Linked DNA regions of Homo sapiens. The protein of the gene in region 1 interacts with the protein of each later gene in a biochemical or structural test. Each region holds a gene or a part of one and is shown in the gene's direction. Other genes may lie near its edges. The genes, in order: KLF2 and WWP1.

Evidence for each region.
Region 2: the proteins of KLF2 (region 1) and WWP1 form a complex in vitro, tested with the Homo sapiens proteins (one study listed by BioGRID).

What each region holds. Positions count from the first base shown.
Region 1 is NC_000019.10:16,323,306-16,327,665, forward strand, and holds the start of KLF2 (Krueppel-like factor 2), read left to right. Parts: upstream 1-1,520; 5' UTR 1,521-1,618; coding exon 1,619-1,693; intron 1,694-1,910; coding exon 1,911-2,727; intron 2,728-3,550; coding exon 3,551-3,726; 3' UTR 3,727-4,360.
Region 2 is NC_000008.11:86,464,362-86,466,904, forward strand, and holds part of WWP1 (NEDD4-like E3 ubiquitin-protein ligase WWP1), read left to right. Parts: intron 1-2,432; coding exon 2,433-2,532; 3' UTR 2,533-2,543. UniProt on the Homo sapiens protein: E3 ubiquitin-protein ligase which accepts ubiquitin from an E2 ubiquitin-conjugating enzyme in the form of a thioester and then directly transfers the ubiquitin to targeted substrates.

The sequences.
Region 1 (4,360 bases):
CTCTACAAAAAAATACAAAAAAAAAAATTTAGCCAGGCATGGTGGTGTGCACCTTGTAATCCCAGCTACTTGGGAGGCTAAGGCAGGAGGATCTCTTGAGCGCAGGAGTTCGAGGCTGCAGTGAGCTGTGATTGCACTACTACACTCCAGACTGGGCAACAGAGGGAGACCCTGTCTCAAAAAAACTCAAATGAATAAACCTCTATCCTTCCCTCCTTCACTAAAGTGGAGGTCCCCTAGGGCAGGGATCTTGTCTATCTCTTGGTTACTGTGTCCCCAGTGCCTACCCAGGGCTGGCAGACAGTTGTAACAGGAGTGACAGTCCCTGGCCAGCAGGGATATGGTGTGGGGGACAGAGGTGGAGCATTGAAGGGACCCATTGGGCAGCATTGTCCTCTGATGCCCCCGATGCTGGAGCTGTATTGGGGGAATGACTGTCATCACCGTCCTCTGAGTTACTTAATTCATTTATGGAAGTCAGTAAAGGAACCCAGCCTGCCTGTGCCTGCCGCAACTCCAACTTCTCCCAGCCACCTCTGCCTCAGTTTCCCTGCACTTGACGGGCTTATTGAGGTTGGGGAGGAGGGGGTGGGTGTCTCAAATGTCAAAGATTTAATGTGTCTTGATGTTACCACACAAAAGTTTTGTTTTGTTTGTTTTTTTGAGACAGTCTCCTCTGTCACCCAGGCTGGAGTGTAGTGGTGTGATTGTATCTCACTGCAGCCTCGACCTCCTGGGCTCAAGCGATCCTCCCACCTCAGCCTCCCACTACACCCAGCTAATTTTTTTTATTTTTTAAGAGATGGGGGCCACTGTGTTGCCCAGGCTGGTCTTGAACTCCTGGCCTCGAGTGATCCTCCTGTCTCAGCCTCCCAAAGCGGTGGGATTACAGATGTGACCCACTGCACCAGGTCTACACAAGGTGTTTTTTTTTACAGGGTGATGTGCACACGGTGGGTCCCTCTGGGTGGTCCCACAACAGATGAGGGGCCCAGCCTCACCCATCCATGAATCCTGGAGACTCCAGACTTCCCATCCATCCAGGGTTCTGCAGCCCTCTCTGAGGCTGGAGCCAATCTCCCCTTCCGTCAAGGGATCCGGGGAGACCGCCAAGCCCGGTGCTCCCCTGAGAGTCTCTGAGAGGCCCCGACACCGCCCCCGCTCCAGGTCCCCGGGATGCTCGCGCAGGCGGGAGCCCGGGGCGCCCGGGGGATCCCTGAGCGTCACGCCGCTGTTGTGGAGCGCGTGTTGACAACGTCGCCGGGGAGACGGGCGGGGGCGGGGCCCGGGAGAGGGGGAGGCGCGGCCCTGGCGGCGCGCGAGGGGCCGGGCTGTCAGCGCAAGGCCCAGGCCGCCGCAGTGGCCACGGCCGCTGCCGCCCGCCGGCTTATATACCGCGGCTAAATTTAGGCTGCGCCCGGAGCTCGTCCCCATCCGGGACGCGTTTCCGCCGCCGCCGCTTTGGCCCGGCCCCCGCGCGCGCCGCGCCTATAAGGCTTGGGCGGGCCCGGCCGCGGCCCACAGAGCCGTCCCCGCCCGCCCGCGCCCCGACCAGCCCGGCCTCGGGCAGCCACTCACCGGTGTCCCCGTCCGCGTCCTTTCTCCCCGGGTCCCGGCCATGGCGCTGAGTGAACCCATCCTGCCGTCCTTCTCCACTTTCGCCAGCCCGTGCCGCGAGCGCGGCCTGCAGGAGGTGAGGGCGGCGGGGACGGCGGGGCGGCCGGGACCGTGGGCGGCGGGCTCGGGGTAGTAGAACGTGGGCTGCGGGGTGACAGGACGCGAAGGCGGGGACTGCAGACTCAGGAGAGGAGGATGCGGGCCACGGGGATCGCGGACTTAGGGTGGTAAAAGGCAAGCAGCGCCCCCCGAGCCCCGCCGCCCGCTCACGCCCATTGCCCTGTCGCCCGCAGCGCTGGCCGCGCGCCGAACCCGAGTCCGGCGGCACCGACGACGACCTCAACAGCGTGCTGGACTTCATCCTGTCCATGGGGCTGGATGGCCTGGGCGCCGAGGCCGCCCCGGAGCCGCCGCCGCCGCCCCCGCCGCCTGCGTTCTATTACCCCGAACCCGGCGCGCCCCCGCCCTACAGCGCCCCCGCGGGTGGCCTGGTGTCTGAGCTGCTGCGACCCGAGCTGGATGCGCCGCTGGGGCCCGCACTGCACGGCCGCTTTCTGCTGGCGCCGCCCGGCCGCCTGGTCAAGGCCGAGCCCCCTGAAGCGGACGGCGGCGGCGGCTACGGCTGCGCCCCCGGGCTGACCCGTGGACCGCGCGGCCTCAAGCGCGAGGGCGCCCCGGGCCCGGCGGCTTCGTGCATGCGAGGTCCCGGGGGCCGCCCCCCGCCGCCGCCCGACACACCGCCGCTCAGCCCCGACGGCCCCGCGCGCCTGCCCGCGCCCGGTCCGCGCGCCTCCTTCCCGCCGCCTTTCGGTGGCCCTGGTTTCGGCGCGCCCGGGCCCGGCCTGCATTACGCGCCGCCTGCGCCCCCAGCCTTCGGTCTCTTCGACGACGCGGCCGCCGCCGCGGCAGCCCTGGGCCTGGCGCCCCCCGCCGCCCGCGGTCTCCTCACGCCGCCTGCGTCCCCGCTGGAGCTGCTGGAGGCCAAGCCAAAGCGCGGCCGCCGCTCTTGGCCCCGCAAACGCACCGCCACTCACACCTGCAGCTACGCGGGCTGCGGCAAGACCTACACCAAGAGTTCGCATCTGAAGGCGCATCTGCGCACGCACACAGGTGGGCGGCACGCACGAGCCAGGAGCGCAGGCGGGGGGACGCGGGAGGAGAGGTCGGATTCCCAGCGCGCGCCAGAAAATGAATTTAGGACCTCCCTTGGGGCGTGGCTCAGGGGGATCTGGCAGGTGGTGCACGCTTAGGACTCCCCAGGAGGCGTGGCTCGGGAGGTTGGTTGGGGGGGCACACAGGAACACTCCCTAAGGAAGTGTGATCCGAGAGGTTGGGGTGGGGGCTTGCACGCTTAGGACGAGGGGGGCCTCCGGAGGTTGGGAAGAGCACTTAGAAAACCTCCTGGAGGCGTGGCTAGGGAGACAGTCTCAGAAAGTTGGGGAGGGGGAGCAGGTTTAGGAGCCGCTGGGCACTTGGCTCAGAATCCCCGGGGCTGAGGCTCAGGTAGTTGGGGAGTAGGTGCGCGTTTAGGAACCCCGGGGAGATGCTGCGTCTCAGGAAGTTGGGGAGGGCGCTCAGGCTTGGGACTCCTCTGGGGACAAGGCTCAGGACCTTGGGGAGGGAGTGTTCGCTGGGAAACCTTGAGAGATTCCGTGTCTTAGAATGCTGGAGAGAGGGTGCATGCTTAGGACCCGTCGGGGAGCGTGGCTGACAACAGTGGGGAGTGGACCTTGCGCTCCTCCGACCCCCTGGGGGTGAGGATCCGGATTGTGGGGGGAGTTGGGGATGTAGGGCAAGGATCCCTCAGGGGCGCAACACTACCGCGGGGAGCGCGTCAAGGCCCTGGTTAGGGATAGGTTGCGCTCGCCGGGGTAGCCATACGTGCCCTGTCCTGGGAGGGGAACTGACGCTTACTCTCGCCCCCTCCCTGCAGGTGAGAAGCCCTACCACTGCAACTGGGACGGCTGCGGCTGGAAGTTTGCGCGCTCAGACGAGCTCACGCGCCACTACCGAAAGCACACGGGCCACCGGCCATTCCAGTGCCATCTGTGCGATCGTGCCTTCTCGCGCTCCGATCACCTGGCGCTGCACATGAAACGGCACATGTAGCCGGGACGCCCCCGCCCACCTGCGCGCGGCCGTGGCGGGTCCCACGCGCCGGGCGCGGCCCCCTCCCAAACTGTGACTGGTATTTATTGGACCCAGAGAACCGGGCCGGGCACAGCGTGGCTACAGAGGGTCTCCCTCGATGACGACGACGACGACGCCACCACCCCAGCCCCCGTCTGTGACTGAAGGCCCGGTGGGAAAAGACCACGATCCTCCTTGACGAGTTTTGTTTTTCAAAATGGTGCAATAATTTAAGTGGCATCTTCTCTCCCACCGGGTCTACACTAGAGGATCGAGGCTTGTGATGCCTTGTGAGAAATAAGGGCCTTAATTTGTACTGTCTGCGGCATTTTTTATAATATTGTATATAGTGACTGACAAATATTGTATTACTGTACATAGAGAGACAGGTGGGCATTTTTGGGCTACCTGGTTCGTTTTTATAAGATTTTGCTGGGTTGGTTTTTTTTTTAATTAAAAAGTTTTGCATCTTTTAAAAAAAATCACAGCACTGGTCTGGTTGCTTGGAACTGGGGCCTTGGGGCACTTGGGAGGAGGGGGGAGCGGAGAGTTTGATGGAGGGCAGCCCCACTAAAGCATCGTGTGCAGTGGGTCCTGCGTCTGCCAGCACCGG
Region 2 (2,543 bases), on another chromosome or scaffold:
TTTTTTTGGAAGTAGTTGGGTTTTTCCCATTAAAATGTTATGTTTATTTTCATATCAAAGTGAATTAATATTTTTTAAACTTCTGTTTTAACTTCTAATCCAGTAAATATCAGTAGCTATAATTCATATAAATAAAAGCTCTTTGCAGTTGGAAATCCATTTTTTTTTTCCCAAGATAGAGTCTTGCTGTGTTACCTATGTTAGAGTGCAGTGGCACAGACACAACTCACTGCAGCCTCAACCTCCTGGGTTCAAGCAATCCTCCTGCCATAGCCTCCTCAGTAGCTGGGACCACCAGTGCACGCCACTATGCCTGGCTAATTTTTTAATTTTTTGTAGGGACAAAGTTTTGCTGTGTTGTCCCAGGTGGGTCTTAAACTCTGGGCTCAAGCTGTCCTGCCTTGGCCTCTGAAAGTGCTGGGATTATAGGCATGAGCCACTGCTCCCAGCCAAGGTTGACAGTATTTTTAAGAGTGAAAAGGAGTCCTGTGACCAAAATTTGAAGACCTCTGCCTTCAATAAAAGTGATAGATCCATATGTATACACACATGCGCGCGCGTGTGTGTGTGTATTGAGAGAGAGATTTTTGAGTCAAAGGGAGAATTAAAATAGATTTCAAATTTTGTGAAAGGAAAGTAATTACCACCCACTGATTTCTGTTTTCTCAAAGTATAAGGAGAAGTCACTGGCTAAGAGTGAAGAAAGGAAAAACTTTTGAGAGAAAGAAGGAATTGGGAGAATTGTTAGAGAATAGGCAAGTATTCATTAGAGGAACACGGCTAAGATTGCTAGGCAAAATTGGATTGCTCACTTGGATTAGAGCATGAAACAAGTTGACAGCAAAGAGCATAAGCTTCCTTTCCCCACCACAGCCCCCTCCCCACCCATAGCAACTCGAAAGCAGCAAAAGTTTTTGAAGAGTGGCATAAACTGGTATGTCTTTTTAGCAAAAAGTAAAAAAGAAACAAAACAAATAGACCCAAAGAATTCTCTGATGGTCCAGGTAAGAGATGATGGGGAAGCATATACAAAGGGATGTAGTGGCAGTAGAAATGATGAGGAGGAGCCTGGGCAACATGACAAAACTTCGTCTCTACAAAAAAAAATACAAAAGTTAGCTGGCCATGGTGGCATGCGCCTGTACTCCCAGCCACTCCAGGGACTGAGGTGGGAGGAGGGAGGATTGCTTCAGCCTGGGAGGTCGAGGTCGCAGTGAGCCGAGACAGTAGCCTAGGCGACACAGCCAGACCCTGTCTCCAAATAAATAATCAGGAGAAAAAATGGAATATTTGGTAGATAGAATGACAGAATTTGGCAAAGGCTATATGTGAAAGATGTAAGAGAACAGAAAGTGACTGGTTGTCTTGTATAGGAAGTATTAAAAAATAATTTTTTTTTCTGACCTTGTTATCATACTCTACCTTGAAGTATAAAGGGGAGGGCAGTATATGGTCTGCTTAGTTGCTGCTATTAATATCTTTAACTTCATTTAAAATACAAAGAATACAGTCTTAGAACAGCACTGTTTTATTTAGATGCCTTGTTTCAAAGGCTCTTTCCTGACTCTGACATGGGAGGGTCAAGGGCACATGGAAAGTGGTGACAGTGGTAAGAAGGCACCTGGATAATCTCTAGAAACCTTCCACATGGGAAAATGAAGGTACAGAAGGGTTCTGACTTACTCAGGGCTATCTCACTAGTCACTGCTACTGTAGGGACCAAAACCCTGAACACCCGAATCCTAATCTAGCTACTCAGTGCTGTACCTCACAAAACGAAATGTTATTCCACCTTTGTAAACTGAAAAATAATAGTTATTTTAAGCATTTTTTAGTATTTTAAAATTTTTATCAGTTAATACCAGAATGGAATTGAGTATGGCAAGATTGAAAAAGTGTCATTTTAGAAGAGTTTATATATGTGGTTAGATTATTTGAAAAGACAAAGAAACATATATATTTGTTAATTGACTGTCTCTACCCCAGAATGTAAATTCCATGAAGACAGGGATTTTAGTTTTCTTCACTGTATCACTAGCTTATCAGTTATATAAAAAATTCTCGGTAAATGACTGATGAATGAGTGACTGAGTGGATGAAAGAAATGGACTCTTATCCTAAGAGAAGTTAAGAGGACTCATGACACATGTAACAGGAATAGTAAAAAGAAAATGGATTTTTTTTTTTTTTTAAATTTGTCTTTATCCATATTGCTACACTTATTATTTGTAATTCCATTTTCCTCTTGGAGATGTTAAAATAGTTTTTATATGTAAGTCTTAAATTTAGATTACTCTAAATACTTCTGGCAAAATTTTAACATATATAGTATACATATATCCATTCAGCATTTCTATGTGCTTTGAAAAGTATTCTATTAGATTTTTTTCATTTTATTGAAAACATCTGATTTTGTTTTTGTTTCTGTTCAGTTTTAATCGCTTGGATCTACCACCATATAAGAGTTATGAACAACTAAAGGAAAAACTTCTTTTTGCAATAGAAGAGACAGAGGGATTTGGACAAGAATGAATGTGGCTTCT